Regions from separate parts of the Homo sapiens genome. Here region 1 is linked to region 2. The links come from fine-mapping of genetic effects on plasma protein levels. A gene starts in region 2. The other region holds a variant in brackets. All regions are shown on one strand. Distances are between the middles of the regions. Region 1 overlaps APOH (apolipoprotein H). Region 2 holds the start of APOH (apolipoprotein H).

Evidence for each region. PIP is the posterior inclusion probability: the model's chance that the variant is causal. Protein levels are from antibody-based Olink assays in UK Biobank. Linkage for the fine-mapping came from a reference panel and not from the study's own genotypes, which makes the PIPs less certain.
Region 1: its variant is fine-mapped to the plasma level of the APOH protein (UK Biobank, PIP above 0.99). The variant lies in the coding sequence of APOH. If it changes the protein, the assay may bind it differently, which can mimic a change of level.

The regions. Positions count from the first base shown.
Region 1 is chr17:66,212,100-66,216,099 of GRCh38, forward strand. APOH (apolipoprotein H) reads right to left here. Exons shown (of 8, transcript NM_000042.3): 7 at 2,354-2,551; 8 at 1-89. The coding sequence ends at 34. Among named protein-coding and RNA genes, the nearest start is that of APOH, 15 kb to the right of the region's middle. The variant A/C (reference allele first, on the strand shown) is at 2,363.
Region 2 is chr17:66,227,255-66,231,254 of GRCh38, forward strand. APOH (apolipoprotein H) reads right to left here and starts at 2,161. Exons shown (of 8, transcript NM_000042.3): 1 at 2,062-2,161; 2 at 766-942. The coding sequence starts at 2,125.

The DNA.
Region 1 (4,000 bases), 15 kb before region 2:
GTGTGACATTTTGTGTGGAATCTGAAAACCACCTTAGCATGGCTTTACATCGGATGCATCAGTTTTCCAAAAAGCCAGAGAACTGTGTTCTGTTGGGGGAGAAAAAGATAAACATTCTAAGAGAAACAATCATTTCTTAAATGTGGTAAATAGCTAAGCCAAACCAAATACATTTTACGAGTATATAGAATACATGTGATTATGTGAATGAAACCATTTAGTGTGAGGTTTAAGTGATGGGAGAAAACATTAGGGAAATGATAAGACCCTCATTTTCTTTTTCTTTTTCTTTTTCCTTTTTTTAAGACAGAGTCTCGCCCTGTTGCCCAGGTTGGAGTGCAGTGGCACAATCTCAGCTCACTGCAACCTCTACCTCCCAGGTTCAAGTGATTCTCCTGTCTCAGCCTCCCGAGTAGCTGGGACTACAGGCACGTGCCACCATGCCTGGCTAATCTTTGTATTTTTAGTAGAGACTGGGTTTCACCATGTTGGCCAGGCTGGCCTCCTGACCTCAAGTGATCCGCCCGCCTTGGCCTCCCAAAGTGCTGGGATTACAAGTGTGAGCCACTGCGCCTGGCCAAGATCCTCATTTTCAAGAGATAAAATTAAAGGTTCTATATACAGTGAAGACTGTTCTATAACAGTCAAGATTAAAGGGGAAAAAACAGTATCGGCCCTTTACAGTACTGCATCTGTCCAAAGACCATAAGGGAGAAGATCCTGAAGAAATATATCAACAAAGCTAAGACTTTTTTCAATTATTCTTTTCTCACATTTTTTCTACTGATTTTTATTTAAGCTTATTGTATTTTGTCATGTTTTGTATTTAACATCTCACCAGGGCTCTGCTGTCTTTTGAATAATGGCAATTTATTCAGTGCATTTGTAACTATTTACAATTAAAATTATATTCCTCCATGTCATGCATATTTCTAATAATCAAACCAACCCCATGAGGTGGGTATTTTTAATCAGTTATCATTCCCTTCTCTCCCACTAGCTGGACACTTCTCAGACTCCTCTCTTCTTAGCTTTGTCTGCTCCCTACTGTCCTCTCCCACCTGCTAAAACAAGATTGTCAATGTTTTTGAAAGATTTCTAAACCTAGAGCCAAGGACAGCTTCAGCCTCTGGCTGGTTCTTACTTTCTGGCATCAGAGACATTTCAACCCTAAATCTGAAACCTTAAAAGGTTAGCAGCTCTAAACGCTGGCCATTACACACTTCTTTATCTCACACAAACCTGGTATCATTCTCCTTAAAATATTTTGCTCTAATGGATACTTTGCTCTAATGGATACTTTTCAAACTCTACGAATTGCTTGAGAAAGGGGAAATGTTAGATCTTTAGACCAATTATCATTGCCATGAGTTGTTTTGTCACTTGGGGTGAGTTCTCTATAATGTGGGACCAAGATGAGGTAGATATTTTATTATTCAATATTTGGTTCATTATTATTCAAGCTCAACTTGGAATTATACAAGATGGCATCATTCACCTCAGCATTCATTGAATATAACCACAACCCTGAGTTTTACAGAAAAGACTTAGAAAAGAGGCTGGGCGCGTAGCTCATGCCTGTAATCCTGGCACTTTGGGAGACTGAGACAGGTGGATTGCTTGAGTCCAAGGGTTCAAAACCAGCCTTGGCAACATGGCATAATCTCTTCTCTAATAAAAATATAAAAAATAGCTGGACATGGTGGTGCGTGCATGTAATCTCAGCTACTCAGAAGGCTGAGGTGAAAGGGTCACTTGAGCCCAGAAAGTAGAGGCTGCAATGAGATGTGATCGCAACACTGCACTTCAGCCTGGGTGACAGTGAGACCTTGTCTCAAAAAAAAAAAAAATTGGAAAGGAAAATGCAAGTGGGGACGCCATCTGCAGCTCACTGCTTCATATCATTGTTTCTCCCTCTCACCCCTCTTTTTAAAAACCCAGTGGCCAAATTCATCTGTGTTTTGTTTGTTTTTGTTTTGAGACGGAGTTTCGCTCTGTTGCCCAGGCTGGAGTGCAATGGCGCGATCTCGGCTCACTGCAACCTCCACCTCCCAGGTTCAAGTGATGCTCCTGCCTCAGCCTCCCAAGTAGCTGCGATTACAGGCACCCGGCACCACAGCAATTAATTTTTGTATTTTTAGTAGAGACAGACTTTCACCTTTTTGGCCAGGCTGCTCTCAAACTCGTGACCTCAGGTGATCCACCCGCCTCAGCCTCCCAAAGTGCTGGGATTACAGGCGTGACCCACCGCACCTGGCCTCATCTGGTTTTTGACAATCATTATAGAACAAAGGCTCTGATTATGATGACGGGCAAGTGGGAGTCCTAGCTAAACGTTCCAATGCAGACTTACCCTTGAAGC[A/C]TTTGGGGACTTCGATAGTGCCATCTATACACTGAGCATCCTCTGTATAGCTACACTTCTTTTCCTTATTTTTGCAGAAGAAAGAAACTTTATCACCATGTAGCATTCCATTCTTAAATTTTTCCTGAATCTTTACTCTCTCTCCTTGGTACACCACAGTGGCTTTTTTCACAGGTACTTTACAAGATGCTGAAAGAGAGAATACTTGTAATCAGGACTTAAGAGTTCAGGAAGTCTTTCTGAAAGAGAGTATAGCATTTGAAACAGTAGATGAGTACACCTACACAAATTGGTCAAGGCAAGAAAAATCCAAGAATATATATAGTAAGTAATGGTAATATGATTGCTAATTGCAGTTCTCTGTCAATAGAACCATTATTCATAGCTTCCAAGATGGCCTTCTCTTCCCCTACAGTAGCCACAGAAGGTCAGAACAGAAGCATCAGAGCCTCCATTTCAGTGAAAAAAAAAAAAAAAAGCAACTAACAGATATTGACATTTCATGTAAGCCTACTCTGCCCTCTCAGATTGCATTCATTAAGCAGGTGCATCTATCCACCAGCCATTGTGAGTGTTGGCTGATAACAGCTCATAAATACTCTGAAAAATTGCCTTCAGCCATAGGGAAGCCACCTCTCCCAGGAGTTTATGCAAACCACCCCCAGGGTCAGGGAAGGGAGCAGCTCAAAGCCAAAGACTGACTGATGAGGGAATATAAAAAGCAGGTCCCCTTGGCTCTTAGTGGGATTAACTCAAGGGTGGAATTCACACTCCAGAGCTCCCAGTGGGATCAAACTGAACCTCATTTTAGCAGAGACCACATTTCTCCCTGGCTCGGCAGCATTAGCATCACCAGGGAACCTGGCATAAATGCAAATTGTCAGGCCCCATCCCAGATCTACCAAATCAGAAACTCTAAGAGTGGAGCTCAAAAATCCTGTGTTAAAACAAGCCTTCCAGGTGTTGCTGATCCACAGCGAAGTTTGAGAACCGGTGCCTTACCCTCGCAAATCTGCCTCACTCTTTCTTCTCCTGAGACATTCACTAAATCAACTGTACTCGAATCCCCGTCTCAGGCTCTGCTTCTAGGGAACTGTAACCTAAGATGCTAGTTATTTGTCATCTTGCCTGCTGCCCCAGAGTTCCTCTTTCTGCTTAAACTGTCCAGCCCATAGTGACCTGAGCAGAGTTCTAATGCTAGGCTGTTGTTGTTCTTTACTTATGCATGACACTGATGGGATCAAGGGTAGACACCTAACTCAAAAGGAACCAGTGTCTCCAGGAAAGATGCCAGTTGGTGATGAATCCTGTAACTGAGAGGGTCTGGTGTATATCAAGCCATGTTCAAGATGAATAAGCAGAGAGACGGAAATGGGAGAGACCATTGAGATACGGAAAAAGTAGGAATAGTTCCTGCCTTTCAGTTCCAATCTTCAGGAGTATCAGTTGTATTTCATGTCTTCATCTTCAATGCCCACATGATCGACTTGCCTGTTGCCTCCTTATAATATCCCCAATTTCCTTGAACTCACTCGAATGTGTGGTTGGTTTTTGCAATGAGAAGAGCCTTGGCTAGACAGAGCACAAAAAGGGGTGGGCATGGTGGCTCACATCTGTAATCACTCGAACCTGGGAGGT
Region 2 (4,000 bases):
AAGCAAAAAAGCATAGTAAAATCAACTTGCATGAACATGCATAACTTTGACAAAGGTCCTGTTCATATAACCAAAATCACCAGATCCATACATCTATTTTTACTGCTTAACTTCTACATATAATTAAATGTACCATAAATTCAATCTGGTTGATTGCATAATACTTGACTGTAAAGAATAATGCTAGCATGATATCATAGAACCATGTTCTAAGAAATAAATAAAAGCAACCATTTACAGTAAAGCCATAGTGAGATTGATATATTTTACGTTATATTATTATTTTAATTTGACCTCTTTTCTTGTATTTCATTATAATATAATATATACATAATGTAGATGAAATTTGTATTCATTTCAGTAACTATTAAGTCCGCTTTCATTTTCAGGTGAAGTCCAAAGATATGATGATTCCCCAAATTTTGTTTTTCCAAATGTCTCTTTGGCATCAGTTGACATTTCAAAGCCTCTCCACTGTTCTTTTAACTTCTGTAGTGTTTCTTTCTCCTTTTGCCACACCAGATCTCATTTTTAAACCTACCCTAGTTTCAGGCTATGATCTTCTCCTCTTCTATCAATAGCACCTATTACCCTTACTCTCTTTGCACAGAGAGAACTCCCCAAGACCTTCTCATTTCTCTCCAACCTGGCTTTCTGCAGCATCTACTGGCCCTCTGCACTCTGAGCATGACGAGGTAGCTTATTCCTCCAAAATACCCAGAATCCAAATGAGGGAAGAGAATGTGAGAGAAGGTACTGACTTACGTGTACATTTCAGAGTGTTGATGGGCCACAGTCCTGTGAGAGGGCAGATAAACTTTCTCATCCCTCCTCGGGACACATAGCCCGGCTTGCAGGAATACGTAATCTCTTCTCCTGGCTCATAGAATGTTTTTAACGGGACCACTGTGGAAAATGGTAAATCATCTGGCTTGGGACAGGCTGAAAGAGGGCACAAAGCAGATGGTTAACAAATCTCTATTTGCATTTTAAAGTTCAGCTAAGCCCACAAATGAAAAATGTGTGTACTGTTACCAATTATAAGCATACCAAGTTGCATGCCAAATACCTCATATACACTATCTCATCTAATCCCCTCAACAACCATTTGAAGGAGGTATTATAATTATCCCCATTTTACAGGTCAGTATGCTGAGGCTTAAATTGGCTACGTATCTTACAGAGGAGCTTTACACATGGCAATATTAAAGAATCAGTATCAATCCAGTCCCTCCAGCATCCACTCTAAAGAGAATTTAGTTATCAGCTGGGCGCAGTTGCTCACACCTGTAATCCCAGCACTTTGGGAGGCTGAGGCGGGTGGATCACGAGGTCAGGAGATAGAGACCAACCTGGCTAACACGGTGAAACCCCGTCTCTACTAAAAATACAAAAAATTAGCCGGGTGTGGTGGCGGGCGCCTGTGGTCCCAGCTACTCGGGAAGCTGAAGCAGGAGAATGGAGTGAACCCAGGAGGCGGAGCTTGCAGTGAGCCGAGATCGCACCACTGCACTTCAGCCTGGCGACAGAGCGAGACTCTGTCTCAAAAAAAAAAAAAAAGAATTTAATTATTCTTCTTCTTATTATTATTATTGTTGACTGAGTTTTGCTCTTGTTGCCCAGACTGGAGTGCAATGGGGGGACCTCGGCTCACTGCAACCTCTGCCTCCCAGGTTCAAGCAATTCTCCTGCCTCAGCCTCCCGAGTGGCTGGGATTACAGGCGCCTGCCATCACGCCCGGCTAATTTTTGTGTTTTTAGTAAAGACAGGGTTTCACTATGTTGCCCAGGCTGGGCTCGAATTCCTGACCTCAACTGATTCGCCCACCTCGGCCATGATGCCCAGCTAATTTTTGTATTTTTCATAAAGACGGGGTTTCACCATGTTGGCCAGACTGGTCTCGAACTCCTGACCTCAGGTGATCCACCTGCCTTGGCCTCCCAAAGTGCTGAGATTACAGATGTGAGCAAGCACGCCCGGCCTACTTATCATTATTGATCCCTGACATATACGAAGGGGTTGGATATATTAATTATTTTTTCAAAAGCAAAAAGTACTTACTCCGTCCTGCAATAGCAACATGGCAGAGAAAACTCGAGAACAAGATGAGCACTGGAGAAATCATTGTGGATGAGTCACACTGGCACTACCAAAGTGGTTTTCGTCTGCTAAAAAGACAGAGCCAAATATGAAAGCGCTTAAACATTAACCATTTTCTGGTGTACTTTTATCTTTGTAAATAGAAGATAAAGTATCATGATTTGAATGGAACTCTGAGACCCACATTCTTTAATCATTTACTTTCCACTTATGTGGCTCTGTTATGAAATCTTTGGGAGATGGTTTCTGTCTTCATAACGTTTTTGTTAATGGCACAAAACAGTTCATTATTGCTTTTGACAGAAACTTGTTGTTTCCGGGGTTGCCTGGACTTCTCATTCTCCATCTTTTGTTTTGTGTATGTTGTAGATGGAACACCAAAAGATCGAAGCTCCTGTTTCACTCACAGCCTTGGCATATAAACTTTGGACAAACACCTACTCTCTGTTCTCAGTCTCCACCTCTCTAAAATGATGTTCCAGTTTTCAGATGTATAATTACAAAGAATGTCTTCCAGGAGGCACTTACAACTTTAATTCCCTACAAACTGAGCTCAACATCCTCTCTTGCAAGCTCCTATAGCTCCAGTTAGGACCTTAGAGCTATCCTTGAATTCTCTATCTTCTCTTACGTCAGATCAATACAAAGTCCTCCTCATCCATTCTTAATATGTCTTGGATCTGTCTAGACAGGTTTCTAGATCTGTTTCAGGAATTTGAAAATTGATTTGAAATTAACAACTTGGGACTCGAAGAAGAAAAAAAAACTTGAGTAGGATAAGATAATGGGCCAGTGCTGATGTTGTTGCTTGAGAGGGTTCGGAAGGGGGGTTGTCTTTGATTCCCTAGTTCTCTTCTACATCATTTGCTCTAAAAAAAAAAAAAAGGATATATAAATGGACAATAGCCAGGCCATATGTGAAAACAGAACTCTGACCCACACATCTGTAGCAACAGGTCTAGAAAGCCAAACCTACAACCTCTATAGCAGTTGGCCCAACTTAAGGCCAACCAGAGAAATCCAAACATATTTCTCTAACCAATCACATGGACACCTCACTTCTAGTTAGTTTCCTTCCATCCTCCCCATACCAACAATCCGTTGGAGCACACCTGAAGCCTTTCCTTTTTTCTATTATAAAGCTTTCCCACTCCTCTGTCTGACTTTGACTTTGAGTCTCTGCCAAACACAACTGTTAATGGCTGCCTCCCTTCCTATAGCAAGCTCTGAATAAATAACCTCCGCTTGCTCTCATTTGGGTGATCTTGGTTTATATCCAGAGGTCTAAAATTCCCTGAGACACATCAGCTTGAGAAATCTCCATCTGTCAGGCAGATGATTCTTAAATTACGATCCTAATGAACATTGTGTTCCATGATAAGAAGAGTGTGCTGCCACTAATGTGAAATAACAGTGGTCCTTCCCTATTTGTCCTTCTAAGGGGAAGGAGATTCTTGTTCTCTGGATAATTCCCAGGTTCCGCTTTATTGTGGAGAATCTCCTTGATGAATGAAGAAGAAAGAAAACTAATGAAGTCAGGAGGAGCCAAGTCGTTCTGTATAGTAAGATCTGAAGTAGAAGGGGAAAAGGAGAGAGAAACCAAAGAGGTCGGGCATCAGTTAAAGAAAATTTGAGAAAAGGTTAAAATTGAGACGAGAATATTTTCAGCAACAGCTACAAACTGAGTGCCTGATATTGAGAGAGGACAAGGAGAAGGGTTTTTAATGATGTTTCCTGGTGGCTGGGCTCCCTTGCATTAGGAAACTTGGGGTAGGGGTGTCGAAATAGTTTATATTCTATTTTAGGTGGTTGTTACTTGGCTACATGCAATTTTCAAAAGCCATCAAGCCAAATATTTAAGATCTGTGTGTTTACTTGATTATACTTCAATTGGAAAACT